Homo sapiens: one gene and its partners. The protein of the gene in region 4 purifies or fractionates together with the protein of the main gene of each other region. This does not show direct contact. Each region holds a gene or a part of one and is shown on either strand. Other genes may lie near its edges. The genes, in order: NEK10, TXNRD2, OXCT1, OAT, CBS, ABHD10 and ALDH1B1.

What was found.
Region 1: the proteins of OAT (region 4) and NEK10 purify together in Homo sapiens (co-immunoprecipitation; one large-scale study listed by IntAct). This does not show direct contact.
Region 2: the proteins of OAT (region 4) and TXNRD2 fractionate together in Homo sapiens (co-fractionation; one large-scale study listed by BioGRID). This does not show direct contact.
Region 3: the proteins of OAT (region 4) and OXCT1 fractionate together in Homo sapiens (co-fractionation; one large-scale study listed by BioGRID). This does not show direct contact.
Region 5: the proteins of OAT (region 4) and CBS fractionate together in Homo sapiens (co-fractionation; one large-scale study listed by BioGRID). This does not show direct contact.
Region 6: the proteins of OAT (region 4) and ABHD10 fractionate together in Homo sapiens (co-fractionation; one large-scale study listed by BioGRID). This does not show direct contact.
Region 7: the proteins of OAT (region 4) and ALDH1B1 fractionate together in Homo sapiens (co-fractionation; one large-scale study listed by BioGRID). This does not show direct contact.

What each region holds. Positions count from the first base shown.
Region 1 is NC_000003.12:27,366,344-27,371,334, forward strand, and holds the start of NEK10 (serine/threonine-protein kinase Nek10), read right to left. Parts: upstream 3,041-4,991; 5' UTR 2,882-3,040; intron 2,876-2,881; exon of another isoform or gene 2,688-2,875; intron 1,220-2,687; exon of another isoform or gene 1,180-1,219; intron 1-1,179. UniProt on the Homo sapiens protein: Plays a role in the cellular response to UV irradiation. Mediates G2/M cell cycle arrest, MEK autoactivation and ERK1/2-signaling pathway activation in response to UV irradiation.
Region 2 is NC_000022.11:19,921,066-19,925,370, forward strand, and holds part of TXNRD2 (thioredoxin reductase 2, mitochondrial isoform 5 precursor), read right to left. Parts: intron 1-4,305. UniProt on the Homo sapiens protein: Involved in the control of reactive oxygen species levels and the regulation of mitochondrial redox homeostasis. Maintains thioredoxin in a reduced state. May play a role in redox-regulated cell signaling.
Region 3 is NC_000005.10:41,729,115-41,732,350, forward strand, and holds the end of OXCT1 (succinyl-CoA:3-ketoacid coenzyme A transferase 1, mitochondrial isoform 3 precursor), read right to left. Parts: intron 2,657-3,236; coding exon 2,615-2,656; 3' UTR 951-2,614; downstream 1-950. UniProt on the Homo sapiens protein: Key enzyme for ketone body catabolism.
Region 4 is NC_000010.11:124,408,700-124,413,004, reverse strand, and holds part of OAT (ornithine aminotransferase, mitochondrial isoform 1 precursor), read left to right. Parts: intron 1-804; 5' UTR 805-833; coding exon 834-1,032; intron 1,033-4,039; coding exon 4,040-4,264; intron 4,265-4,305. UniProt on the Homo sapiens protein: Catalyzes the reversible interconversion of L-ornithine and 2-oxoglutarate to L-glutamate semialdehyde and L-glutamate.
Region 5 is NC_000021.9:43,052,073-43,055,950, forward strand, and holds the end of CBS (cystathionine beta-synthase), read right to left. Parts: intron 1,912-3,878; coding exon 1,808-1,911; 3' UTR 1,119-1,807; downstream 1-1,118. UniProt on the Homo sapiens protein: Hydro-lyase catalyzing the first step of the transsulfuration pathway, where the hydroxyl group of L-serine is displaced by L-homocysteine in a beta-replacement reaction to form L-cystathionine, the precursor of L-cysteine.
Region 6 is NC_000003.12:111,985,224-111,989,528, reverse strand, and holds part of ABHD10 (palmitoyl-protein thioesterase ABHD10, mitochondrial isoform 1 precursor), read right to left. Parts: intron 3,266-4,305; coding exon 3,154-3,265; intron 2,616-3,153; coding exon 2,478-2,615; intron 1-2,477. UniProt on the Homo sapiens protein: Acts as an acyl-protein thioesterase that hydrolyzes fatty acids from acylated residues in proteins.
Region 7 is NC_000009.12:38,395,385-38,399,649, reverse strand, and holds the end of ALDH1B1 (aldehyde dehydrogenase X, mitochondrial precursor), read right to left. Parts: intron 3,911-4,265; coding exon of another isoform or gene 3,902-3,910; coding exon 2,348-3,901; 3' UTR 989-2,347; downstream 1-988. UniProt on the Homo sapiens protein: ALDHs play a major role in the detoxification of alcohol-derived acetaldehyde. They are involved in the metabolism of corticosteroids, biogenic amines, neurotransmitters, and lipid peroxidation.

The DNA of each region.
Region 1 (4,991 bases), on a different chromosome or scaffold from region 4:
CTGTCCTAAGAGAATAGTGCCTTTGTTTTGTTCACTGCTGAAGGCCCAGGTGTTCAATAAATATTTGTTGACTGTCTGGATGAACTTCCAGCTCCTCTCTGCCTATCCAAGTGCTCAACCCAGTTCACTTTGACTTCAGCCTCAAAGCTTGACTGGCTGTGACAGGCAGAGTAACATTCCAGGCCCTTCTTCCACCTCCTGAAGACTTTATTTGTTGCACTGTCTTTTGGCTCACCCTCACTGGGCATGGAGCCCCAAACCCATTAGATGGTCAATAAATACTCACTGAATGATTGAGACTCAGAGCTGTATCAGAGCTGTCGCCAAACACAAAAGTTTGTGATCAAGTACTATAACAACAGGATGGTGTCCTAGAAATTGCACTTGACTGAATCAAAAGATTGATTTTTACCTTTTGTAAACTCACCATGACAATTTCACAGCTCTAGACTTCAGTGTGTTCATTTTTTTTTTTTTTTTTTTTTGAGACGGAGTTTCACTCTTGTTGCCCAGGCTGTAGAGCAGTGGCGTGATCTTGGCTCACTGCAACCTCCGCCTCCCGGTTCAAGGGATTCTCCTGCTTCAGCCTCCCAAGTAGCGGGGATTACAGGTGTGCGCCACCATGCCCAGCTAATTTTGTATTTTTTGTAGAGATGGGGTTTCACCATGTGGGCCAGGCTGATCTTGAACTCCTGACCTCAGGTGATCCACCCACCTCATCGTCCCAAAGTGCTGGGATTCACGGCATGAGCCACCATGCCCAGCCCAGTGTGTTCATTTTTAAACGTGAAAGCTTACTATATATAAAGCACTATACCTTTGGTATGAATTATGTACATATAATCTTTAAAAGAATCCTATGAGCTAGGTGCTATTATACCCCCATTGTGCAGATAAAGAATCTGACTAGAGGCTAAGTAATTTGTTATGTGTTACACAATTAAAATGCTAGAGCTAGGATTCAAACCCATGTATGTATGACTCCAAAGCTTAGCTCTTGCACACCATGCTGTACTGTCTCTCTCTTTACCATTTTAAGCTTATGTCATATAATAACAGCTACCGTGATAATGATTATGGCTTGAACTATAAACTGTGAATTGAAGTAGTTTCCAATTACTAAGGGTCTTGAAATTAAAGTAAAACCTGTACCTTTTATAACATTTTTTCAATATTTACCTTTTATAAGCAAAAGCTTCATTGGCCATTTCTGACTTTTCTGGAAGAAATAAAGATACCATGGCAAACAGTAACTTCTCATTTTAGAGATTCAGTCAGTTAACAAGTATTTGTTGAACACCTGTTACGATGTCTTGCACTGGGCTAAATGCTGGATATATATAACAATAGTGACTGAGACAAAGATGGTCTCTGCCGTCACAGAGGCAGTCCAGAGAAAGAAACAGTAATCAAGCAACATACAGAAAATGATTGGGGAGTGAGAGCAGGAGTGTGGGGGTGCAAAAAGGAAAGTCCATTCCAGGCAGTGTGAGCAACAGGTGAGATAATTACACACAGGAGAGAATGTGACATATTCTGGGAACAATCAAGATGGAACTGCTGATAGAAGGCCTAACTAAAGATTGGATTAGGGTAATGGGGAATCATTGCAGGACTTTAAGTAGGGAAGGGAAATGCCCTTATGTGCGTTTTAAAAAGATCAGTTTAGCCGGGCACGGTGGCTCACGCCTGTAATTCCAGCACTTTGGGAGGCTGAGGCGGGTGGATCACCTGAGATCAGGAGTTCGAGACCAGCCTGACCAACATGGTGAAACCCCTTCTCTACTAAAAATACAAAAATTAGCCAGGCGTAGTGGCTCGCGCCTGTAATCCCAGCTCTCTGGAGGCTGAGGCATGAGAATTGGTTGAACCCGGAAGGCGGAGGCTGCAGTGAGCTGAGATCGCTCCACTGCACTCCAGCCTGGCAGCACAGCAAGACTCCTTCTAAAAAAGGAGTCTTTTTTAGAAGGACTCCATATATATATATATACACATATATATATATCAGTTCAACAATGGTGGGGAAAAAAGTGGATTGGATAGATAGGGCCAGACTAGAATCGGAGAAGCCAGATGGGTGTTGAATTTAACCAACCGATGGTGGAAATTGAGACAGTAAAAATAGAGATGGTAATGTGGGAATTGATTCAACACCTATTAAGAAGGGATAGTCTTGATAATTGATAGAGATGCAGAGGAAGCAGCAGTAAGTGTCATGGATGTCGTCTAGAGTGTAGTTTTTGAAAGCTGAATGGATAGTGATGCCCAAAATAGGGAATCCAAGAGCAGCAGCAGACATGGGGAAGATGGCGTTCAGGGTTGCACATGTGTGGCGTTAACTTGGCAGCTGGATTTTGGGGTCTGACAGTTAGTAGAGCAGGCTAGGTTCCAGTTGGAGACTTTCTAATCATCGTCAGATAGATGGTGCCTGAGGCGAGGAAGTGGAAGGGCTCACCGAAGTAGGGCAGAAAAGCAGAGGGGCAAAGTCAAAGCAGCATCCTGTAAGGAGAAGGCAGAAAAGCGACGCTCATAGAGATGAAGAATGAACCTCCAGAGGCGTCGGAGCAGATTGGAAGAGACACATTCAGGCTCCATTTAACCAGAATAATTCCGTTATCAAAATGGAAGCGCCAAGAAGCATCGTTGATGGCGCTTTCCCACCATCCATCCGTCCAACACAAACCCACCTGCTTTGAAAAGACTGCCTCACGCAGTGACTCACTTACCCACCACAGCCGCATTCTCTACCTCTGCCTCTTGTCTAGTGAAGCTGGCTCCCGAGGCTTCGGGGCCGCTCCACAGGGACCTGAGGACGTCTCCCCGGAGACCCTGACTCAAGCTGCTCGCCGGCACAGCCGAGCACCGGCTCCCGCCTACTCACCGCGCGGGAGGGACGGTCCCTCCTTCAGGCCAATCTCCTTATCATTGTCCCTGCTGCTGTCACCTGCTGCTGCAGACCGGGGGTCCCGTCCAGTCTCAGCCCGTCCCGTCCTCCCCCCAGCCTATTCCCGGTCCCCTCAACCTCAGGGACACCGCGGCCAGCTGCACCGTTGGTTTTCCAATCAAATCCTCCTCCAGGCCACCAACCAGCGCTGGCCAGGCCAATGCCGACAATTCTTCCTCCGCCACCTGGGGCGCCTCAGCCAATCGGGAGCAGCCATGCTGCGCAGTGCAGAACGCCATAGCGACGGATGACGCCTGCCGGGGAATCGCCGTAGCAACCAGAGACGCGCTAGATCCACCACCAAGCTTGCAAGCAGAAGAGGCAGCAAGTGATGCTGAAGGCTGTGCTGCAGCCACTTCACCGGAACCTAGAGCTACCTGTGAACAGGTCTCCTACACGTTGAAGATTTTTCTGGATTTAGGGTGTCTAACCTTTGATGGGAAAGGGCAGCTTCATCTTGGAGTGTTTACTTTCAAGAATTGCTATGGGCTAAAAATCAATTCTCTTTAAAAGCAAAGATTTAATCTGATAAGGAATCAATGCAGCATGCTAAATACCTTTCATATGGCATGAAAACGTCTTCAGTTACTCAAGCCACAGGCAATGAGAATAAGGTGCCACAGCACCGTATTTTTCACAAAAAGAGTGACCTGGGATTCAAGAAACCTGTATAGTATAACTATCGCCAGTTCGTTTTGTGGCTTTGGGCAAGTCACTTCACCTTTTGTGAAAGTCTGGAGCTTCTTTAAAATTTCTGAACTGCATTAGATAACGCTTTAAAAATATACCTGACATTCTGTAACTTTAAATAAATGAAAAATGCCAATCTATTAAGTGCTTAATTTTGTGCCGGGCACGATTTCAAATTCTTTCCTTATTTCACTTAGTTATAAAATGGAGGCACAAGAAGTTTCCTAAGTAGTCCAGTATGGCAGAGCTAGTGATGGAGTCAGGGTAAAACCTACTTCGAGTCTGGTCTTAACCACGATGATGCTCCTTCGACGATTTCTTCGAGTACTGGGCCCTGTTCAACCTCATCTTGGTATCACTAAACGCTCGTGTGTGTGTCTGGTGGTTACATCTTCCCAAACTGGATTTTAAATGAATACAGTGAACCCTAACGTTTTTCTGGTGTGGATAGTAAGTAGGCCCATTGGATTAACAATACTTAAGCTTGGGTAATTGAAAGCATTTTTTAAAATGAAGACGGTCCTATTTTGGAAATGCAGAAAGGCGAGATGAAAGCCAAACTCTGGTGAGTATAGCAGAACTAATTAAACTTCAGAGATCTAAAACAATCAGGATTAATGTTACCAATAAAACAAAACAAGGTGACGGGGCAGGAAGACCGATGCTGAGTAGAAAAAGTATTCTGTACATACATTCTAAATGTTAAGCAGTCGGCCTGGCTTGGTGGCTCACACCTGTAATCCTAGCACTTTGGGAGGCCGAGGCAGGAGGACCACTTGAGGTTAGGAGTTCGAGACCAGCCTGGCCATCATGGCCAAACCCTGTTTCTACTAAAAACAGAAAAATCAGCCGGGCATGGTGGCACATGCTAGTCCCTACTACTCAGGAGGCTGAGGCACAAGAATTACTTGAACCCAGGAAGCAGAGGTGCAGTGAGCCAAGATCATGCCACTGCACTCCAGCCTGAGAGACACAGCAAGACTCTATCTCAAAAAATAAACATTAAGCAGTGAGACATGACTGCACTGAACTTCTCATCTTCACCAGAATACCAATTGTGCTTCCCATCTTTCCACTACTCAGTAAAATTAAAGTCTTAAACTAATGTTTTGGCCATCCCAGAATATTCCTGAACTTCCCTGAAAGCTGCAGCGATTAAGAGGCAAGAATGACACTGCCTCTAAAAGACACATACACTATCATCTCAAATGTTAAGGGTCCCTCTGTAAAATGACACAAAATAAAATCCCACAAGAGATCTTGCACCAAGCTTATAGCTTATATAGCAAGGCTCAAAACTATGAAAACATATTTTTCTAAGGCCTTTTTTTAAATGAAATGCATAACGTAAATTATA
Region 2 (4,305 bases), on a different chromosome or scaffold from region 4:
CACTGTACTCCAGACTGGGTGACAGAGCGAGACTCTGTCTCAAAAAAAAAAAAAAAAAGCTAATGTCCACAAGGCACAGTGGCTCACGCCTATAATCTCAACACTTTGGGAGGCCGCAGCAGGCAGATTGCTTGAGCCCAGGAGTTTGAGACCAGCCTGGGCAATATAGCAAAACCCTGTCTCTACAAAAAATACAAAAATTAGCTGGGTGTGGTGGCATGCGCCTGTGGTCCCAGCTGCTCGGGAGGCTAAGGTGGGGGGATGGCTTGAGCTTAGCAGGTGGAGGATGCAGTGAGTCAAGATTGTGCCACTGCACTCCAGCCTAGGTGACAGAGCAAGACCCTGTCTCAAAAAAAAAAAAAAAAAAAGCCAGTGTGCCAGTGTGTAACTCCCACATCTGACCACGATGGAGCAGCAGGGCCCAGATTTACCCTCCCCCTGAAGCAACCCAAAACCCAGGTAAAATGCATGAAACAACGGGCTTTCAGGTACTCCATGTCAGGTAACAAAGGACCTGAGAGAGAGGAAACAAACATGGTGAGCCCTGGGGAGTCTCCAGGACCCAGCACTGCAGGCTGGGGAAGATGGGGAGAATCCAGCACAGGAGAGGGCTGAGAACTGGGGGAGACTGAGGCAGCCAGAGGTCATGCACAGAAGACAGTGAGGAGGGGGCTGCCCAGAGAATCTGAGAGATCTGATCGGCGCATGTGTCTTGGGAAACTACCTGAGACCAGACAGAACCACCTGGAAGGACTGGAGGGGACAGAGCCCACACAGGGCAGGGGACAGTGCCTGTTCCCAGAATCTGGACTGGGAAAAGCATATAATTCCTGGGGCGTTGGGTCATGCCCCAGTAGTTGAGAATCATTAGCCCTAGACTGGGCACTGCTCCATACCCACCTAACAAATCTTTTGCAGAAGACCCAAAAGGATCAAACTGACTCTTAATAACTGCATCCCAGAACAGAGCTCAATAATAGTATTTCTAGAAATACAAAAATGCCCAGAACCCAACAAGGTAAATTCAAGTGTCTGGCATTCAACCAAAAATTACCAGTCACACAAAGAAGCAGGAAAATACACCTATAAAGGGGACAAAAAAAAATCAGTCAATGGAGACTGACTTGGAACAGACACAGATGTCAGAATTAGCAGAAAAGATCAATAAAACAGGTATTCTAACTATTCCATACTTTTTTATTTTTATTTCCTTGCTTAGATGCCTCACTTGTGTGCCCTAACTCCACCTTATCACATATGATGAACTATCTGTTCATGTGTCTGTCTCGGTAACTAAACTGCAGAACTCCGTCAGTCAGGGGCTTTGGTCCTGGTTTGTCTTTGTTGTTCCGGGTCCTGGCCCAGAGCTTGGACCACATTAAGTATTCAAATGGTTTGTTGAAGAAATTAACATGTTAAAAACAAACCTTTCTCACAGAACACTGTTCCTCCTTCAGTGTTCAAGATCCCAGACCTTTGGGTCCCTTTTTACCTACTTACTCCCTACCAAAAGTTCTCTCTCCTTCGACTCCAGGGTGGTTTTATAAACCTCTTATGCATCTCAACTTGCACTATATGGTAGCTACTTTTCACAGCTACAGACTTTTGGTGTGGGAAGGATCTTTTTTTCTCTTTTTTTGAGATGGAGTCTAGCTCTGTCACCCAGGCTGGAGTGCAGTGGCGTGATCTTGGCTCACTGCAACCTCCACCTCCTGGGTTCAAGCGATTCTCCTGCCTAAGCCTCCTGAATAGCTGGGATTACAGGTGCGCACCACCATGCCCGGCCAATTTTTTTGTATTTTTAGTAGAGATGGGGTTTCACCATGTTGGTCAGGCTGGTCTTAAACTCCTGATCTCATGATCCGCCCACCTCGGCCTCCCAAAGTGCTGGGATTACAGGCGTGAGCCACCATGCCCGGCCAGGAAGGATATTATATGCAATTTGTTCTACCTGCTTACCTGAAGTTTGAGTCTCCTTCATAACATCCTCACCAAGTGTTCACCTATGCCTGGTGCCTTTGTCTGGGAATGTATTGCCTTCCCAAGTGGCCATTTAATTTTGGGAACTCTCCCAATATAAAATTTCTCCTCATATTAATTGGAAATGTTTTCCTATAACTCTTAACTATCTCCACCCCCTCTCCCACATGCCCACTCTTTAAAATTTAAAACTATTTTTTTCCTTTCCCTTAAGTTTTCTCTTTTTGAATTCCTTCAATGATGACTTTCAAGGATAGATTCCTTCAACTAGGATAGTTTAGGTCACTTCTCTCCAAATGACCCACCTTCTCCAAACCTCTGTTCAGAAGGGGCTGCGATGCTCCCAGTAGGAAGTCTGAGGCCCTAAAAATGGGCAGCTCTCGACCTGTCCTGGCTCTGGGCTGTATCAGCCTTGAACTCGGTCACATCAAACATCTGACTTATAGAAGTTAACAAGCAGACTGGGCGTGGTAACTGACGCCTGTAATCCCAGCATTTTGGGAGGCCGAGGCGGGCAGATCACCTGAGGTCAGGAGTTCGAGACCAGCCTGACCAACTGTAGTTTCACGACCAGTAGTGAAAGCTCGTCTCTACTAAAAATACAAAATTAGCCAGGTGTGGTGGTGGGCGCCTGTAATCCCAGCTACTCGGGAGGCTGAGGCAGAAGAACTGCTTGAACCCGGGAGGCAGAGGTTGCAGTGAGCCGAGATGGCACCACTGCACTCAAGCCTGGGCAACAAGAGTGAAACTATGTCTCAAAAAAAAAAGTTAACACAGCATTCACTGAAACCCCTGAGGCTTTTTTTTTTTTTTTTTTTTTTCAAATCTTGTGGACTTCTGACTGGTACAACTGCAGCTGCCTTGCCTGGTAACTTGGGTACCTGGTTTGTGGGTCCAACTGCAGGCCATTCAGGTAGACTTGATTTTTTTTTTAATTTAAAAAAAGGCTTTTTTTTCTTTTTTCTTTTAAAGAGACAGAGTCTCACTTTGTTGCCCAGGCACTGGTGTGCAGCGGTGCGATCACAGCTTGCTTACGCCTTGACCTCCTGGGCTCAAGCAATCCTCCCAGCTCAGCCTCCCAAAGTGCTGGGACCACAGGCACACACCAACGCCCAGCCCTCAGTGGTTTTGATGGATTAGTGTATCCCCAGACCCTCCGAAGGGGAGGACAGTGCCTTATCTCTCTCTTTCTTCCACCAAGAAGGCCACAACCGGCCTTTTAACCTTGATCCAAGCGAGGCTGAAAAGCAAACAGGGCGTTCATCTTCATCCTTTATAGCCACATAGCCACATCTCCCGCCCACAAGCAGATTCCACCACCCCCCGCACCCTAAGGCCCAGCCTCATCAGCTGCAGCATCTTCACCTGGCCTTTCACACTGAAGCAGAAGGGGTGACGGTTTACTTTCAGCTGCATGGTCTCCATCATACCCGTAGACCCAACAGCTGAGCTTCCCCTCTGTCCCTTCTCCTCAGCTCACTGCCCCACTAGCCATTCTGCATGTTCAAACAGTGCAGGAGCAACATGGAAGATATAACCAAAGGCTCAAGCTGGATTGTAGAGATGAAAACTACAATACAGGAGATGAAAAATACACTGGACGGGATTAATGGCAGGTCAGATGTTGCAGAATCTTTTATTGGTGGGTTTGAAAACATAGGAATAGAAACTATCCAAAATGAAACGCAGAGTAAGAAATGTTTCTAATGAAAAGAGCATCAGTAGGTTGTGGGGAAGCTTCATGCAGCCTAATATACATGGAATTAAAAGTCCCCACATGTGAGGGGAAGAAGGAGGGACTCAAGGCCAATGAAAAGAGAAAATCCTAAAAGCAACCAAGACACACTACAGAGACACTAAGATAAAAATAGTAGCAGATTTCTCACTGGAAACAATGCAAGCCAGAAGTCAGAGGGGCAAAATTTTTAAAGTACTGAAAAAAAAAAAAAAAGCGGGGGGCCAGGCATGGTGGCTCACGCCTGTAATCCCAGCACTTTGGGAGGCCAAGGGGGGCGGATCACAAGGTCAGGAGATCGAGACCATCCTGGCTAACACGGCGAAGCCCCGTTTCTACTAAAATCACAAAAAATTAGACGGGCATGGTGGCATGCGCCTGTAGTCCCAGCTACTCAGGAGGCTGAGGCAGGAGAATGGCGCAAACCCGGGAGGCAGAGCTTGCAGTGAGCTGAGATCGCACCACTGCACTCCAGCCTGGGCGACAGAGCAAGACTCCATCTCAAAAAACAAAACAAAACAAAACAACAACAACAAAAAAGAAGGCAAAATAAAGACGTTTTCAGACATACAAAAGCTGAGAGAATTCAT
Region 3 (3,236 bases), on a different chromosome or scaffold from region 4:
CTGTCGACCAAGGACAGCTACCGGAAGTAGCAAATCCTGGGGACGTGCCCACCCCTTTGTTACCAGAGGAGCAGCAAAACAGATGCTGAGCAGACTACCACTAGAGCCACTTCAAAATGGAAATAAACTCACAGCACCAGGCAACTAATGTGTACAGTAAAGGAAAATGTTACACAAAAAGTGAACAAGGATTCACACATGAAGCCTTGGATAAATGATTTTTGTAAACATAGCAGCCTCTGACAAGGAGCAAGTTGTGAAACTCAATGTTCACTTGATCTTTCTAGAAGAACAATATCTTTTCTCTGGTAAGATAAAAAGAAAAGCAACAACTTGACTAGAAGTGGTGATGTGCGTATGTTTATTGTGGCACTATTCACAATAGCAAAGACTTGGAACCAACCCAAATGTCCATCAATGATAGACTGGATCAAGAAAATGTGGCACATATACACCATGGAATACTATGCAGCCATAAAAAAGGATGAGTTTATGTCCTTTGTAGGGACATGGATGAAGCTGGAAACCGTCATTCTCAGCAAACTATTGCAAGGACAAACAACCAAACACCGCACGTTCTCACTCATAGGTGGGAACTGAACAATGAGAACCCTTGGACACAGGAAGGGGAACATCACACACCGGGGCCTGTCATGGGGTGGGGGAAGGGGGGAGGGATAGCATTAGAAGATATACCTAATGTAAATGACGAGTTAATGGCACACCATTAGCATGTTGGCACACCAACATGGCACATGTATACATATGTAACAAACTTGCACATTGTGCACATGTACCCTAGAACTTAAAGTATAATTTAAAAAAAAGGAAAAAAAAAAGAAGTGGTGATGTGTGCTGACTTTATTGTTAGCTACCCTGACAATCTGTTGCATTATTCCCACATTTAGCAATGCCATTCCCAAGTGAAATAAAGGACAGTCACACTGATCTACATCACTTTAGAATATTTATTGTATTCCTTAATGCATTTCTTAACATGTATAGCACTCTTCAATCAAGAATATAAAGTCATCTACTTAGAATCACATTATCTTAAAGATGCATACTGGAATGATAAGTTTGAAGATGTAACTATCAACAATTCTTTTCAAAATCATATCAATATATTACTCTCATGGAACTTGCACATTCTAAGAAGGGTCATTTTTTCCCCCCAGTACTGGGAAGGTATGCATTTAACCATGTGGTCAGCCAGAAAGGCTGTTTTATATATGGTGTGTGTTACTCATAAAAAGCCTGTCCTTTCTCTAATATTGTACATTACACAATTGTAGCTACACCTGAAAAGAAGTGAGTTTCAATGACCATCATCACCTAAAAACATGAATAAGTTTGTATATTTAGGACCAGAGGAATGATATATCGTACTGTACTATGCCTACCTCTGTCCAGAGGCCAGCTGTCTCACCTGTTCTTCAGGGTGCCTAGACTTTTTACCCATCTATTATCCGGGATGCTTCTGAAGTCATTCCCATGGGCCCCTGTCAGGTATTGAGAATAAATACCTCTAAGGAAGTTTTTTTCAAACCTAATCTACCCACCATGTTTATTCCCTGACACTAAAAGTTCACTGACTCTTCAAATCCTAGACTTGTCCAACATTATTTTCCCTAGTTGGATAAGGCTGAATTAAAGGCACTTCGTTAAAGGAAGTAGCCTTGGCAGAAGAAAAACCGTTGTTCTGTAGAAGTGTCATTCAATATTTAAAATCTCCTCTGAACCAAAACAAGAGCCTGAAAGTAAAACACCTTTTATTTTTTAACTCTGCTGTCATTGCTACTAAGGATTCATGGTAAATTATCCCACAGCCCTTCTTGGCTTGAGAGGAGGTACAGTACAAGTAGCCCACAGGGTCTCAATAACAGAAGTATTCTCAAGGACCCTTGAGGATACAAAGGAATACTGGGCTGTTTTAAAATGAGAAAACTGAGAAGAATCAGTTAGGTTTCTAGCCCTCTTCCTATAATACGCCTTAGTCTTTGCAAAGCATAGATAGATAGTTGGTTTGAACTAGTTATTTCTCCCTGCCCTCCCCCACAAGAGGCATTCCTGCTTGCCTTCTTGGGCATCTGTTTAAAAGCAGTATGGGAGGAAGGGGGATGTTCTAGGGGGACAAGATGTAATCATAAAATCTGAAGCCCCAAAAGAAAAGTCAGAGGAGGCTGAAGAAAAAACAATCATGACAGCAACTCTCCTAACCACAAAAATCACATATGTTATCTTTCTTTCAGGACTAATAATTAATATTTAAGAGGAAAGCCACATCAATTTCTAGGGCCCTTCTTGGGGAAAGGTTCATATAATTTAGCATACATACCATATTCAGTGAAAATGCATTCAATATAATTACCTATTATAAAAACAACCTTCTCAGCCTTAACAAATGAGATAATTATAAATGCTCCTTTTGCTTTTTATTAAAATGTCACAGCATGCCTAGAGAACAGTTTATATGGCTGCATAAAGTCTGAAACACAAGAAAACTAATAAAAAACCACCTGTTAAATACACAATTATGATTATTGATGTCCTTTCAATTAAATCTTGTGTGTTTAAAATGAAAAACACGCAGCCTGGTACAAATATCCATATTTCAATTTGCGATCTGCTGCATTGGCATGAGTTTTGGTGAAACCTGGTAAAAGAGGAAAAAAAAATCAAATTATGAAAAACTGCATGATATAAATCTCTCTCCTTTTAATTTCCAAATTTCAATCATGTAGGCAACAAGCAGCCTTGCCATGGACATTCCCTGGAGTTTCCATATGATTTTCCATCCTGAAACATTGAGACAGAACAGTTCTGTTTACATTTTGGGTATTTTGTAGTTCTCAACCTTCTTGTATTAGCTCCTAAATTAAGGATGAACAAGGCTGGCAACAAGGAGCAGGTGGAAGAGGAGCAGAGGAAAACAAAGGATCCCAATAACCAAGCCCCCTGTCAGATGGATCACTGATCTCCGAGACTGATGCCTCTGAGACTTCACTTAAGACGCAGTACAAACCCCAAGTCTCCAAAACCTCAAAATAGATCCAGCCAATTCATAATTTTGTTGAAAGATGCTTTATGTAATCTTTGGATTACCTAAATACATATTAATGAAGAGACGTATGATCAATGATAAATCTTATCGGAAATTTCATAATCAGAATAGAAATGATACAAAGGCAATAAGAGGATTCCAAGTTATTAAAATATGGAAGTAATAGCATTAA
Region 4 (4,305 bases):
CTCCTGCCCCATGCCTAGTCTCTGGCAGTCTTCTCTGATTTGGTCTCCCTGCCTCTGGTCTCTGCCCTACAGTTGTAGCTGTCTCATAGCATTGTGCCTGATGGTATCGGACTGTGGTAGGTGCTTAACAAATACTTAGTGTTTAGCAGGTACTCAGTCAACACACAGTGCATTAGCTCTGGAAAGAGTCTTACTCTTATTGATTGGTTGGTTGATTGATTGCCTGATTGACAGGGTATCACTCTGTTGCCCAGGCTGGCCTCAAACTCTTGGGCTCAAGTGATCCTCCCGCCTCAGCCTCCTGAGCAGCTGGGGGCTACAGGCACAAACCACCACACCTGACTCAAGATTCTCACTCTTTTTTTTTCTTTTATAGAGACTATGTTGCCTAGGCTGGTCTTTAACTCCTCGGCTCAAGCGATCCTCCCATCTTGGCCTCCCAAGGTGCTGGAATTACAGATGTGAGCTATCACGCCTGGCCATTTTTTTTTTCTTGAGACTGGGCCTTTCTTTGTCTCCCAGGTTGGAGTACAGTGGCACAATCTCAGCTCACTGCAGCCTCAACTTCCGGGCTCAAGCAATCCTCCCACCTCAGTCTCCTGAGTAGCTGGGACTGCAGATGCATACCACTACACCCAGCTAATTTTTCAATTTTTTTTAGTGATGGAGTCTTGCTCTGTTGCCCAGGCTGGTCTCAAACTCCTGGGCTCACGTGATCCTTTGACCTCAGCCTCCCAAAGTGCTGAGATTATAGGCATAAGCCAAGGATTCTCACTCTTAATGCATTCTCTTTTCTTTGGACAGATCTGTGGTTTTTCTACTTGAAGGACACAATGTTTTCCAAACTAGCACATTTGCAGAGGTTTGCTGTACTTAGTCGCGGAGTTCATTCTTCAGTGGCTTCTGCTACATCTGTTGCAACTAAAAAAACAGTCCAAGGCCCTCCAACCTCTGATGACATTTTTGAAAGGGAATATAAGTATGGTGCACACAACTACCATCCTTTACCTGTAGCCCTGGAGAGAGGAAAAGGTACGTTTCAAATTAATCCGTCTTTTCCCTTTTCTTGAAACCTTTTATAAAAAAAAATTGCTTCCATATTTTCACAATATACATTTTTCTAGATGTGTTTAATGTGTATATTGCAGACATGGTTAATTCTTCTTCTTCTTTTTTTTTTTTTTTTTTTGAGACGGAGTCTCACTCTGTCACCCAGGCTGGAGTACAGTGGCACAATCCCAGCTCACTGCAACCTCTGCCTCCCAGGTTCAAGCGATTCTTCTGCCTCAGCCTCCTGAGTAGCTGGGACTACAGGCGTGCGCCACCACACCCAGCTAATTTTTGTATTTTTAGTAGAGATGGGGTTTCACCATGTTGGCCAGGCTGGTCTCAGACTCCTGACTTTGTGATCCTCCCACCTTGGCCTCCCAAAGTGCTGGGATTACAGGTGTGAGCCACCACGCCTGGCCAGTTAATTCATTTATTGAGTGTCTAGTGCTGCTGTGTTAGGTGCTATGGAGGCTTCAAAGAGGAACCATTGTCTTTGTCATGTAGACCTTACCAAGAGGGAATGCAAGAGAAATAAGGAAAGTACTATCATATTGCTGTCATTTTTTTCTTTTAACTTTTATTTTGGCATAGTTTTAGACTTAAGAAAAGTTGTAACAAATAGTACTGACATTTTCCTTTTATACTTCTCCCAGATTTTCCAAGTGCTAACTTTTTGCTGCTTTGGTCTTAGTGTGTTCACTCCCTTCTCTTCTCCCCCCGCCGCCTGCATATTCTACATTGTTTTCTGAACTGTTTTGAGAGGAAGTTGCAGACATGACATCTCTTCTTCTTTTTTTTTTTTTTTTTTTTTTTTTGAGACGGAATGTCGCTTTGTCACCCAGGCTGGAGTGCAATGGTGGGATCTCGGCTCACTGCAACCTCTACCTCTCGGTTTCAAGTGATTCTCTTGCCTCAGCCTCCCGAGGAGCTGGGACTACAGGCCCACGCCACCACGTCCAGCTAATTTTTGTATTTTTAGTAGAGACAGGGTTTCATCATGTTGGCCGGGCTGGTCTCGAACTCCTGACCTCAGGTGATCCACCCACCTCAGCCTCCCAAAGTGCTGGATTACAGGCGTGAGCCACCGCGCCCCGCCACATGACATCTCTTTACCCATAAATACTTAGTGTGTCTTTCCAAAAACGCAATGACTTTTTGAGATAGGGTCTCATTCTGTTGCCCAGGCTGGAGTTCAGTGGTGTGATCATGGCTCACTGCAGCCTGGAACTCCCGGCTTCAGGTGATTTTCCCACCTCAGCTTCCCAAGTAGCTGGGACTACAGGTGTGCCTTACCATGCCTGGCTTATTTTTTGTAGAGATTAGATTTTGCTATGTTGCCCAGGGTGATCTTGAACTCCTGGTCTCAAGTGATCCTACCACTCAGCCTCCCACAGTGCTGGGATTGCAGGTGTGAGCTACTGTGCCCAGCTGACTTTCTCTTTTATAACCATAGAGTAATTGTAAAAATCAAGAACTTAACACTGGTACAGCACCATTAGTCTAGAGACCTAATCCAGATGTCATTTGTTCTCTTTTATAACAAAAGAAAAACCTCCGATGAGTTGCATTCAGTTGTCATGTTTAGTCTTCTTTAACCCAGAACAGTTCCTCAATCCTTGGTTGTCTTGGTCTTCTTTCCCTTTGTATTAAGTATCTTGTGGGGACAGAGTGTAAAACTCTGTAAATATCCAGTTACTCATGAACTTTTACTCACAATTTCAGCATCCACTAATGATTCTTGCCTGAATAAATGATTACGGTGGTAGTTGCCAAATGGTGATTTAATCTACAATTTGGAATAAATAACAGCCTTAACCAAATAAAACCAAAGTTTATTACTTAGCTTTGTACCAGAAAATGACAATATAAGAGTATCACACATTTTGGTCATTTGCTTGTATTTTATTTGGTACCAGTACTGTAGACATATCTTCTTTTGAACTATTGAAAATCTGTTTCATATTACATGACATGGCAACCTTGTTTTTACTTTCCCACTAGCAATGTATGAGAGTGCCAATTTCTTCAGATCCTTGTCAAAAGTTGTTTTTTTAATTATAACCATCCCAGGGAGTATGAGATGGTATCTCATTGTGGTTTTAACTTGCATTTTCCTAATGATTAGTGATGTTGAACATCTTTTCATGTGTTTCTTGCCATTTGTATATCTTCTTTGAAGAAATAGCTATTCAAGTCTTTCCCCATTTTTTAAATTGGGTTGTTTGTCCTTTTGAAATTGAGTTGTAAGAATTCTGGATATTAGATCCTTATCAGACACATGATTTACAAATATTTTTTTTCCATCCTAAGGGTTATTACAGTCTACTTCTCATGATTTTTGTCTGTTATGTGTAACTTCTGCTTTTTTATTTTTAAATTTTATTTATTTTATTTTTTTTTTTTATAGGCAGGATTTTGCTCTGGTGCCCAGGCTGGAGTGCAGTGGCACAATCTCAACTCACTGCATCCTCTACCTCCCAGGCTCAAGCAATCCTCCCACCTCAGCCTCTGTAACGGGACCATACGCGCGCACTACCATGCCCAGCATTTTTCTGTAGCGTCAGGGATTTTGCCGTGTTGTCCAGGCTGATCTGGAACTCCTGGGCTCAAGCAATCCCTGCCTTGGTCTCCCAAAGTGCTAGGATTACAGGCGTGAGCCACGGCTCCCTGCCTAACTTCTGCTTTTAAATTCTAATTTTGGATCCTAAATCTTAGAATTAGGTAAAGGTTTTACTCCAGAGTTTATAACCTTTTTGTGTTATTTTTGTTAAATGTGTGTTTTGAAGCTGGGCAGATAAAATACAATTCTTAGTAATTCCTTACAAACCAAAGTTTATTATGCCTGAGCTAAAACAAGCTTTAACTACAAATATGTATTAAATAGAGGTTCATATATAGGCATTCAGAGGGCTTGCTAGCACTCTTAATTTTTGGACTTTATGCCGTATAGTAATTGTCTAAAATTATTTTCCTTTCTTATGTATTTTAGGTATTTACTTATGGGATGTAGAAGGCAGAAAATATTTTGACTTCCTGAGTTCTTACAGTGCTGTCAACCAAGGGCATTGTCACCCCAAGATTGTGAATGCTCTGAAGAGTCAAGTGGACAAATTGACCTTAACATCTAGAGCTTTCTATAATAACGTACTTGGTGAATATGAGGAGTATATTACTAAACTTTTCAACTACCACAAAGTTCTTCCTATGAATACAGGTAAAACATTTCCTTTTTTTGTTAAATACCCTCAAAAATAA
Region 5 (3,878 bases), on a different chromosome or scaffold from region 4:
ACTTGTAATCCCAGCTACTTGGGAAGCTGAGGCAGGAGAATAGCTTGAACCCAGGAGGTGAAGGTTGCAGTGAGCCAAGATCACACCATTGCACTCCAGCCTGGGCAACAGAGCAAGACTCCATCTCAAAAAAAAAAAAAGTAAAAAGATAACCTACAGAATGGGAGAAAATATTTGCAAGTCTTATGATAAGGGCTTAGTATCCTGAACATATAAAGAGCTCCTACAACTCAACAAAAAGACAACCCAATTTAAAAACAGGAGATGGATTCTCCCAAAAAATAACCAACAGGCATATGAAAAGATGGTCACTCAACATCACCAATGATTACAGAAAGGCAAATCAAAACCATAATGAGACACCTCTTCATACACACTAGCATGGCTATAATAATTTAAAACAAGAAAATAGCAAGTGTTGATAAGGACCTGGAGAAACTGGAACCCTCGGGCACTGTTGGTGAGAATGGAAATCGGTGTGACCAGTATGGAACACAGCTTGATGGTTCCTCAAAAAATAAACATGGACGCCGGGCGCAGTGGCTCACGCCTGTCATCCCAGCACTTTGGGAGGCTGAGGCAGGTGGATCACCTGAGGTCAGGAGTTCAAGACCAGCCTGGCCAACATGGTAAAACCCTGTCTCTACAAAAATACAAAAATTAGCCAGGCACAGTGGTGCACACTTGTAATCCTGGCTACTCGGGAGGCTGAGGCAGGAGAATCGCTTGAACCCAGGAGGTGGAGGTTGCAGTGAGCCGAGATTGTGCCATTGTACTCCAGCCTGGCAACAGAGCAAGACTCCATCTCAAAAAAAAAAAAAAAAAAAAATTAAACATGGAGTTACCACATTAACCAGCAATGCCACTCCTGGGTACACACCCAAGAAAAGTGAAAAGAGGTGTCCAGACATACTCGGCCATGAAGGTGCACAGCAGGTTACTCACAAGGGCTGAAAAGCAGAAACAACCAGGTGTCCATCACCGATAAATGAGGAACCAAAATGTGGTCTATCCACACAATGGCTTATTATTCGGCCACAAAAAGAAACCAAGTACACGTGCTCTGACATGCCTGAAAATACCATGCAAAGTGAAATAAGTTAGACACGAGGCCACAATTGTGTGATTCCATTTATATGAAATGTCCAGAACAGGGAAAACCTATTTTAGACAACAGAGACACAAAGTCGATCAGCAGTTGCCAGGGGAGGAGGAAGACGGGAGGGGAAATGATTGCTTCACGGGGTGATGACAGAATGTTCCAGAACGTGACAGAGGTGGTGCCTACACAACTTTCTGGATGTACTAAATGCCGCTGATTGTTCACTTTCAAGTGATTGATTTTTAGGTTATTTGAATTTCATCTCAATTAAAAAACCCAAACACGCAAACTGCTCCCGCCAGCTCAGCCCCGAGCAGACGGCGCAGCCCGTGGAGGATGCTGAGCCACCCAGGCTTCTCCCCGCCCCTTCCTGGACTCTTCTCTCTTTTGCCTTTAATCCACTCTGCGCAGTCATTGCCTGTGTTCATCCTACCTGGCCGACTTCTCTCTCAATATTTCCTTGGTGAAACATCCTAAGAGGAAGTTACATTAGAGAAAATCACATATTTCATCTCATAGGCCGTAAACAGGGCCATTTAGGAAGCCATGTGTTAACGAGGGGAGACGGATGCTCTGTGCCGTGTGCAGGGATAACGGTGCCAGGCCAGGCAGTTACCAATCACGCGTGTGTTTAGGGCTCAGGAAAGCGAAGGAGAAGTGGGCAAGGGTGGCGGGCCCGCTCCGCACCGCCCAGCGCTCCGGACTTCACTTCTGGTCCCGCTCCTGGGCGGCCACGAAGTTCAGCAAGTCAATGGCGGTGACCACCCCGAACACCATCTGCCGCTGACTGGACTTCCCGGTGCTGTGGTCTGAGGGGAGAACGAGGCAGTGGGTTTGCAGGTGCCGTGGGAGGCTGGGTGGGCTGCTGCGGGGCAGGAGGCTCCTGAGGGCCTGGGGCACCTGTGCACCATGGGGGCCCAGGGTGGCTGGAGCCCAGCGGCGAAGGCTGTGTTCCTTTTTTTTTTTCTGAGACAGGGCCTCACTCTGTCCCCTAGGCTGGAGTGCAGTGGTGCAGTCTTGGCTCACTGCAACCTCCACCTCCTGGGTTCAAGTGATTCTCGTGCCTCAGACTCCCGAGTATCTGGGACTTCAGGTGCACATCACCACACCCAGCTAATTTTTGTATTTTTAGTAGAGATGGGGTTTTGCCATGTTGGCCAGGCTGGCCTTGAACTCCTGACCTCAAGTGATCCACTTGCCTCGGCTCCCAAAGTGCTGGGATTACAGGCGTGAGCCACTGTGCCTGGCCAAGCCAGTGTTCTTCTGACATGAGCCCCATGAGCCCCCAGGCCAGGTTCTACCCACCACGTGAGTCCCCTGGGCCCCAGGCCAGGCTCCACCCACCGCAGGTCAGGACACACCCTTCCCTGGCCCACCGGCTGAGCTCCTGAGGCACTCATGACTTCAGAGCCGGTGTGGGCATGAAATTCAAACCCGCTTACAGGGCCGGGCACAGTGGCTCACACCTGTGATCCCAGCGCTGTGGGAGGCCAAGGTGGGAGGATCATTTAAGCCCGGAAGTCTGGGACCAGCCTGGGCAACATATTGAGACCCTGTCTCTACAGAATATTTTTAAAAATAAATTAGTCGAGCATGGTGGCACACGCTTGTGGTCCCAGCTACTTGGGAGACTGAGGCAGAAGGATCAGTTGAGCACAGCAGGTCGAGGCTGCAGCGAGCTATGATGGCACTACTGCACTCCAGTCGGCAACAGAGCAAGACCCTGTCTCTAAAAACAGACAAAAACCCCTTGCCACCATGGGCAGCACACAGCTTCCATCTCTGGCCTGATTCTGTCTTCACCCCTCCTGCTTTCTCCTGGCAAGCGTAGACCCGGTGTTAATGCTGGCCGAGGCTCCCATGCCACATACCCAGACAGGGCTGTTGTGATGGTTAATTTTAATACAGATTAACGGGGCCGTGGGAGCCCAGGCATTGGTCACACGTCGTTCTGGGCATGTGTGAGGGGATTCCGGATTAGCACAAGAGTCAAGAGGCAGATAACGTGTGCTACTGTGGAGGGCCTCACCCAAGCAGTTGAAGGCCTGAATAGAACCAAAGGTGGAATTTCCTGCCTTGGGGCTTGAACTGCTGGCTCTCCAGTCTCCGGCCTGCCGCCTCACCCTGCAGATCTCAGGGTTTGTCAGCCTCCGTGATCTCATGATCCAGTTCCTTAACACAGATCTCGTTCCCTCTCTCTCCCCGCTCCCCACACATCCTCTTGGTCCTGCGTCTCCACAGGACCCTACACCAGCTGTCATGAGGCACAGAGGGGTGAGCAAGGTGCGGGTGAGGAAGAGCCCTCGGAGCCCGTCCCAACTCCGCCACGGCTGTCACTCCTCTCTTTGTAGGCAGAGGTCCCTTGGGGTGGCCCACTTAGAGCCCCAGGAAAAGATAGGGAACACAGATGAGATCAGCTCCTTGCATTTTGGGGAAACGGAGGCACAGCAACTGTTGGAGAAGGGAGCCCTGGGAGCCCTGAGTGCCGCAGGCTTCTGTGGCCCTGGCAGCTCGGCCCAGAGTCAATGGACTAGGGCCAGCCAGGGGACTTTCCGACAAGGGCCAGCTGGTGGTATTTTAGGTCTTGGGGGCCGTGCCGTCTCTGTTATGAGCACGCAGCCCTGACGTGCTTGAAAGCAGCCACAGACGGTGGTGACAAGCGTGGACATGCTCCAGGAAGACTTGATTTGGGGACCCTGACATTGGAATTTGCATCTTTTTTTTTTTCTGAGATGTTCAAACACAAGTAAATGTGAGATTAAGAGGGGGATCCCTC
Region 6 (4,305 bases), on a different chromosome or scaffold from region 4:
ATTTTAAGCATCCCTGGCCCCCAACTAGCTCTGCTACCTGCCACTGAATTGAATGAAAATGGTCCATCTGAAGAACAAAGTTAACTTTATAAAATGTTGTATGTCTCAAGTCCTCAAGAACAAAAAGTTCAGAAACAGCAAAGACATTACCCAAAGAAAATGTACAATATATTAAGTTCTACATCAACAAAACTTATCAAGGCAATGTGGTTCAGAAGCTTACATTCCCAACAGCTGTGCATCATGTCTGAGGCCCTCTAGTGTCCAAAGAAGGTGATAATGATTAGAGTCAGTTAAAGAGGATGGTCAAGTTCTTAGAGAAGAAATGAGAAATGCTGGGCTTACTATTCCCAGGGTTATAAAAGATAGTAAAAATCTCCACATCTGCTCCGTTGACATTGTTAGGGCTAGCTGTTTATGTGGAGAAGAGATAGCGGTCTTAGTGTTGGTGCTCTTTCCTTATACATGCTTTTAAGTTAACCAAGGGCTCAACATGCTTCTGTTAACAACTGCTTATCTGAGTAAGTATTAGCAAAAAATGCCTTGATTTGCAGATTATAAATCTTCTCAATTAGAAAGTATCTACCCTATGCTCACTCTGACTGATGTGAACACACACACACGCAGAGAAATGTACATGGCCAGGCACAGTGGCTTGTGTCTCTAATCTCAGCACTTTGGGGGTCCAAGGCAGGAGAATCTCTTGAGCCTAGGAGTTCAAGACCGGCCTGGGCAACATGGCGAGACCCCATCGCTACAAAAAATACAAAAATCAGCCAGGCATAGTGGTGTGCACTTGTGGTCCCAGCTACTCAGGAGGCTGAGGTGGGAGGATCTCTTGAGTCTGAGGGGTCAAGGCTGCAGTAAGCAATGACTGCACCACTGCACTCCAGCCTGGGCAACAGAGATACCCTAAAAACCCCCCCAAATAAAAACAAAACCAAAACAAATGTACACAGGTTTTGTCATTTACCAATAATTACAAAATACAATAAACCCCCAACCCCCAAAAATCAACTCCTTTTCAATCTGCTATGTCTTTGAGATAATTTCCTACCCAAGAAGCGCTGTATTATTGAGTTAAGAGGATGGAGCAAGGAGTCCACATTTAGATCCACAAAATGTCAAAGGTGGGAAAAACATGAAGACATTGAGCAACTATGTATGAGAAACCACCAAGAAAGTGAACAAAATTCAGAAACAGGAGATAAGTTCAAGGAAGACCAGCTTTGTAATTTCAGCTCTGATAGGAAATAATATGAGAAACCTGAATACACACACAATGCTATTTCTTAAGGAGCTTAAAACAACGTGAACTAAGAATGAACTTAGTTAATATATGGCACAGGTATTAATGCAGAACTTGAGGCAAATCAATGACATTCTACTATTCAACACTGCATACGTTTTTTCTTCTTTTTTTTTAAATTTCTGAACCTCCTTCTCCTCTTCCCCCATTCTCTAAAGCATTGTTCTCAAACTTTACAAGAGGTTTGTTAAAACACAGACTGCTGGGCCATACCCCCAGTTTCTGATTCAGGGTAAAACCCAAGAATTTGGGTTTCTAACAAGTTCTCAGGTGCTGCTGCTGCTGCTAGCCTAGGGACCATATTTTTTAACTACTGCTCTGTTTTCTTTAATTTCTGTGTCTCTGTCACTCTGACTGACAATATCTGTCTGGAGAGTTCTGTTGGGAGGAACTGAGGCTGCTTTTAGGCTAAAACAAAGACAGTCAGCTCTCCATATTCATGGTTTCTGCATCCATGGATTCAACTAACTTTGTATCAAAAATATCTGGAAAAAAAAGGTTACCTCTGTATTGAACGTGTACAGTCTTTTTTTCTTGTCCGTATTCCCTAAACGATACAGTATAGCAACAATTTACATAGCGCTTACATTGTACTAGGTATTTTAAGTAATCTGGCAATGATTTAGATTATACAAGATTATGTGCAAATACTACACCATTTTTTTTCTCAGAGACTTGACCATCTGTGGATTTTGGTATCCATGGGAGGTCTTGGAAGCAATCCCCTTCAGATACCAAGGGATGACTGCAGTTTCAGTTCATTAGCCCACTCTAACATAGTCATAAGAACAGGCACTACTCCCCATATGCCACAAAGTAAGAGGACCAAAAGGAGATCACGATGTATGATTCAAATAAGTAAATGTAATAATAAAGAAAATGTGGCTAAAAAAAAAGAAACTTCAAAGTGTGATATTGTTAATGTGTCTCAAATATTTGGCAGAATGATTTGAAGAGACTATGAAGAAACGAAATCTTAAACAAGATGACAAATAGTTAAAGATAGAAAAGAGGTTGTGTACAGAAAGGCAGCTAAGACAAAAGTTGGGCCAGCACAGTAAGTCAAAGGAATTATTGTTTTCTGTCCCCCCTTCCCTCAAAGAAAGAGGGAGCAGAAGAAGTATAAGCGGTAAATATATTGAGGTGGCAAAAGTGACTTTTGACTTACCTCAACAGGAAGCTGATTAAACTTTGTCACTAAGGTATCTGCAGCTGTAGCTACACCAATAAGAGCCACGACCTTCTCTGGTCGTGCAATTGCAGCATGAAGCATAAGCCACCCTCCAAGGCTAGATCCAACAAGAATCTAAAAATAAAATAAAATAAAACATTAGGTCTTTAAGATAGAACAGGTTATAAACATAAAACAAAATATGTACAATAAAAAATTAGAAAGTAAAAATAGAATCATTTTAAATCAAATATCAAAATGGATTAAACATTTAAATTAAATAAAAACATTTTCATATCTAAAGAAACAGCTTAGGCCGGGTGTGGTGGCTCACGCCTGTAATCCCAGCACTTTGGGAGGCCCAGGCGGGCGGATCACGAGGTCAGGAGATCGAGACCATCCTGGCCAACACGGTGAAACCCCATCTCTACTAAAAATACGAACAATTAGCCGGGCGTGGTGGCGGGTGCCTGTAGTCCCAGCTACCTGGGAGGCTGAGGCAGGAGGATGCCGTGAACCCGGGAGGCAGAGCTTGCAGTGAGCCAAGATTGCGCCACTGCACTCCAGGCTGGGTGACAGCACGAGACTCCATCTCAAAAAACAAAACAAAACAAAACAAACAGCTTAAATACGAGGTTACAGTAATTATCATCATACTTAACAAAACAGTCACCTGTGGCCCATCAGCTAAGTCATCAATTATAGAAAGAACATCTTTTCTCCATTTCCCCAGTGTGCTTTCCTCTGAGTTACCATCTGAACTTCCAACTCCTGAGTAATCAAACCTGGAAAAAGGGGAAAAAAATCTATATCTAAATATCTATATATCTGCTTCTTTAATTTTTAAGAAAGATAGCACCTTCCTCATTACTATAATGCTTATAGTGAAACATCACAATCAATATGTATTTTAGCAAATTCTATTGGCTTATTAACTTTCAAATACCTCCTGTGTCCAATCACTTTCTCACCTCCTCCACTGCTACCAGCCTGTTGCTAGTCACACTGTCTCTCAACCTAACTGAATGCAATAGTCTCCTAAAAAGTCTCCTGTTTGCATTTTCACACTCATTGTCTTTCCCTATATAGTAGAGTGATCCTTTTAAAACAAAACCATGTCTTGCAAACCCTCCAAAGGCTTTCTATAATCTTTAAATCCAGAGCCCTTACCATACTTTGGTGCCTGATCACCTCTCTGATCTCATTTCTCATTGTTTTCTCTCTCTCCCTCCCTCCCTCCCAACTGTATCTTCGCTTTGCTTCTTGAAGCTCCCATCTCATCAGCTTTTCTCTCCACATGGCATACTCTCCTCCAGATAGCCATTTAGATTGCTCCCACACTTCATTCAGGCCTTTGGCTCAAATATTACATCCTCAGAAAAGCCTCCCATGACCATTCAATTATTAAAACTGTGCTGCTTTCATCATTCTCTAATTCTTTACTCTGCTTCATTTTCTTCATAGCACTTATTACTACTTGAGATATATTTGATTATTTATGGTCCATCTCCCACATTAGAATGAAAGTTCCACATGGGCACAAGCTTTGTTTCAATGCGTTCCTAGTGCCTAGTTCAGTTCCTTGCGAGTGGTAGGTGCTTAGTGTATATTTAGTGAATTGATGGAAGGGAAGGAGACCAGAATAAAATTCATCATCACCAACCCATCCCTTTCTCCTTCCAACTTCCTAGTTATCTAGGCTCAGTTATCTGTCTGATCTATGAATTTTACCTCTCCTTAAGGGTATCAAATCAATAAAAAATCATGGTGGTATAAAGTATCATACCACACCCACAGGTTACCTAAACTCTAGTCATACTGAACT
Region 7 (4,265 bases), on a different chromosome or scaffold from region 4:
CAGAGGTGCCAACAGCCTCCCAGAGAAATCCGTAGAAGGTGCACTATGGGGGAGTGTCAGGGTCACCTTAGCTGTAGACAAATGGTGTAGAAAGGAGGTCCTAGGAAGGGAGGTGAGGGAACCAAACAGACTCTGAACCCTCAAGCAGCAGTTTCCAGCCAAACCCAAGTTATGATAATAAACAAAATCATCATGTTGCCTAGGTAAGACAATAGGATGTTTAAGAGTTGACTGGGGCCAGGCATGGTGGCTCATGCCTGTAATTCCAGCACTTTGGGAGGCCGTGGCAGGAGGGTTGCTTGAGACCAGGAGTTTGAGACAAGCCTGGGAAACATGGTGAAACCTCATCTCTACAAAAAATACCAAAAAAAAAAAAAAAATTAGCCAGGCATGGTGGTGAGTGCCTGTAGTCCCAGCTACTTGGGAGGCTCAGGTGGGAGGATTGCTTGAGCCTGGGAAGCAGAGATGAGTGGGGTGTGCATTTACAGGAATGGGGGGACTTGAACGTAAGGTGGCTTGTAAGCAGCATGGTCTAGAAAGATGGACCGAGAGAGGGAGGCTCAGCATTCTGCTTCTGTATTGTGGCCTGGCTGGCTTGGATTTGCCTTCACTCCCATCAGTTGGGGAATGAATGTAGCAAGACTAACAATAAACATTATGAACTCTGAGGTTTGAAACTCTGGAAATCCCCAGCATGTCAAGGTGGCCCCCATGCTAGGCTTGGCTTGAAGGGTGGGTATGGTTTGGAAGGGGTGGGGGGCTGTGGAAACGAGTCCAACAAGATGGGCCCATTCTGAGCAGGAACCAGAGTTTTTCTCTACGGGTCTTACAGTTGCACTTTGTCACCCATCCAAGAGAAAACAAAAACAGAAACATTGGGGAGGGGACTTTTGCACCTGACTGGGGGTTGACTAGACCACCTGGGTCCCTTCCATCCCCCACACTCTATAAAATGTTCAGCAGCAGGACAATATGGAGACAAAATGGATTTGCTCACAGAATGTATACGTTTATTTTTTAACGGAGTTAATTCATGGCCGGGTGTTGTGGCTCCCACCTGTAATCCCAGCACTTTGGGAGGCTGAGGCGGGTGGATCACCTGAGGTCAGGAGTTCAAGATCAGCCTGGCCAAAATGGTGAAACCTCATCTCTACTAAAAATACAAAAATTAGCCAGGTGTGATGGCATGTACCTATAATCCCAGCTACTCAGGAGGCTGAGACAGGAGAATCGCTTGAATCTGGGAGGCGGAGGTTGCAGTGAGACGAGATCACACCACTGCACTCCAGCCTGGGCGACAGAGTGAGACTCCGTGTCAAAAAAAAAAAAAAAAAAGAAAAAAAGAAAGAAATTAATTCATATACCATAATTAAACAATTCCATAGTTTTTAGTATTTTTACCAAATCATGCAACCATTACTATTGTTCAACTCCAGAACATTTTCAAAACCTCCCAAAAACAAATCCCATGCCCACTAACAATTACTCCTCTATCCCCTGGCAACCACTAATCTATGTTCCATCTCCATGGATTTGCCTAGTATGTATATTTCATATAAATGGAATCATACAGTCTGTAGCCTTGTACATCTCTCTGGCTTGTTTCACTGAGAAGGATGTTTTCAGGGTTCACTGATGTCACAGCATGTGTCAGTACTTCATTCCTTTTTATGGCTGAGTAATCCAAGGAATATTCCATGGAAACATTTTATTAATCCACTCATCAGTTGACGGACATTTGGGATGTTTGGGCTTACTTTACAGGTGTAATCATGTAAGCATATTCTTTGCCTACTCCTTCCCACAAATTAAGGAAAATCAGTAGCAAAATGAAGGGCAAGCAACTAAAACAGCCAGCAACTGGCACACAGACAAGGAAAAGCACCTCTGGTTTTTAGGTTAAGCCAATGAAGAGTGGGGCCGAGATTTAGTATCCACCTAGTTCAAAACCCCTAACACTTTCCAAGCTTGTGTTCTGAGTTGAGTCGATCCACTAAACCATCAAGCGCACCCATGGGAAAGTCCTTGGATCAGCAGGAAGAGCTACAAATTACAGATCACTGGTTTTTAATCTGTCCTCCAGAGACTCCTAAGATTTCATGGAAGCAACTCATGGGCCACCAAGGGGGCTGTGGTTGGGGGTTAGATAGGTAGAACTCTGAGCCTGGTCCCCATCTCTGATTTAAATAGAACAGCCTTGATTGAATTGCTTTATTTGTGGGGTTTCTTCTAAGAGTTAATTTGGAACAAAGAAAGGGTGTTCTTGGCTTTAAAACAGCTTGGCAAGCATTCGTCAAGGTGGTTGTGGAATTGCTGGACTGTGACTGGGCCTCCCTGACAGCTGCTCTTACGAGTTCTTCTGAGGAACCTTGATGGTGACCGTCTTTACCTCTGTGTAGGCCTTAAGCCCATCCTCACCCAGCTCCCTCCCGTTTCCAGATTCCTTAAACCCTCCAAATGGCGTGTGGCAGGTGACGATGTTGTAGGTGTTTACCCACACGGTCCCGGCCTGGAGTGCCTGGGTGAAGTACATGGCCTTGTCCAGATCCCGGGTGAACACAGCCGCAGCCAGGCCATACCTGGTGTTGTTGGCCCTCTCAACCACCTCCTCAATCTTCTTGAACTTGAACAGGGGCTGCACAGGCCCAAAGATCTCCTCTTTGGCAATTCTCATGTCATCCTGCACGCCACCAAAGACAGTAGGCTTGATGAAGAAACCACGCTCCCCGAAACGCTCTCCGCCACAGAGGAGTTTTGCGCCCTCCTTCTGGCCAAGCTGGATGTAGCCTAGGACTCGTTCAAACTGCTCCTTGTCCACCTGAGGCCCCTGCTGGGTGTCCAGCTCAAAGGGGTTCCCCACTTTCCTCTGCTTTGCTTTCTCCACGGTTCTCTCGAGAAACTCATTGTAGATGGATTCTTCCACGAAGGTCCGGGAGCCAGCACAGCAGCACTGGCCCATGTTGAAGAACAGGGCTTCGTGGCACTGCTCCACGGCATGCTCCATGTCAGCATCGGCCAGCACGATGCTGGGGCTCTTACCACCCAGCTCCAGGGTGACTCTCTTGAGGTTGGAATCGCCAGCTGCTTTCTGGATCAGGTGGCCCACCTCGGTGGAACCGGTGAAGGCAACTTTGTCAACATCCACGTGCTGGGCGATGGCCGCACCTGCTGTTGGGCCATACCCCGTGATGATGTTCACCACCCCAGGGGGAAAGCCTGCCTCCTTGATGAGGGAGGCCAAATACAGGGCAGAGAGGGGGGTCTGCTCTGCCACCTTCATAACCACAGTGTTGCCTGTGGCGAGTGCCGGGGCAAGTTTCCAACCCTGCATGACCAAGGGGAAGTTCCACGGGATGATCTGGCCACAGACACCAACGGGCTCATGCCGGGTGAAGCAGAAATGCTGGCCATCCATGGGGATGGTCTTGCCATGCCACTTGTCAGCCCAGCCAGCAAAGTACCGATACACCTTGATGACCTCATCCAAGTCCAAGGCGTAAGACTCTTGGAAAGGCTTCCCATTGTCCAAGGTCTCGAGTGAGGCCAAGTAGACTCGATCCCGCTCCACTAGGTCTGCCAGGCGGTTCAGCAGCCGGCCCCGCTCAGAGGCATCCATCCGGCGCCATGGGGACCCCAGGCGGAAGGCTTCCCGGGCTGCTTTCACGGCCCGATCCACATCAGCCCGGTCACCTTCAGCCACGTGCCCAATGACCTCCCCGGTGGTAGGGTTGACCGTCGGGAAGGTCTTCTTGCTGACTGCATCTTGCCATTCATTGTTGATGAACAGCTGGTTGTAGGGGATGTCTGGGTTCAGAATGGGGCTTGGGAGGGCTGCTGCCGAGGAGTAGCGGGCGGTCCTGCCCTGGAGGCTAAGCAGCCGGGGTGCCAGGAAGCGCAGCATGCTGACACTCTGGAGAGGGACAAAAGAAACCAGGGTGAACAGGTGGGAGAAGGCAGGTGGCGGTACCCAAGGGCCCACCAGCTCAAACATTTCAAGATTCCAGCATAAAGGACTGTCACCTCTAAAAACACAGACTGTAAGAGCTGTGAGGGCCCTGATGAACTCTCTGGGCCAACTCCATCACGTCCCGCCTATCCTCAGCTCACTCCCTCACCTCTGCTGGGTCTCAAAAGCCACTGTCTCAGCAAGGCCTTCCCTGACCACCCTTTAAAAAATTGCAACCCTTCCCACCCCAACACTCTCTATCCCCGCTACCCTGCTTTACTCCTTCTCTATCTCACATCCCAAATACTATCTTTACAGG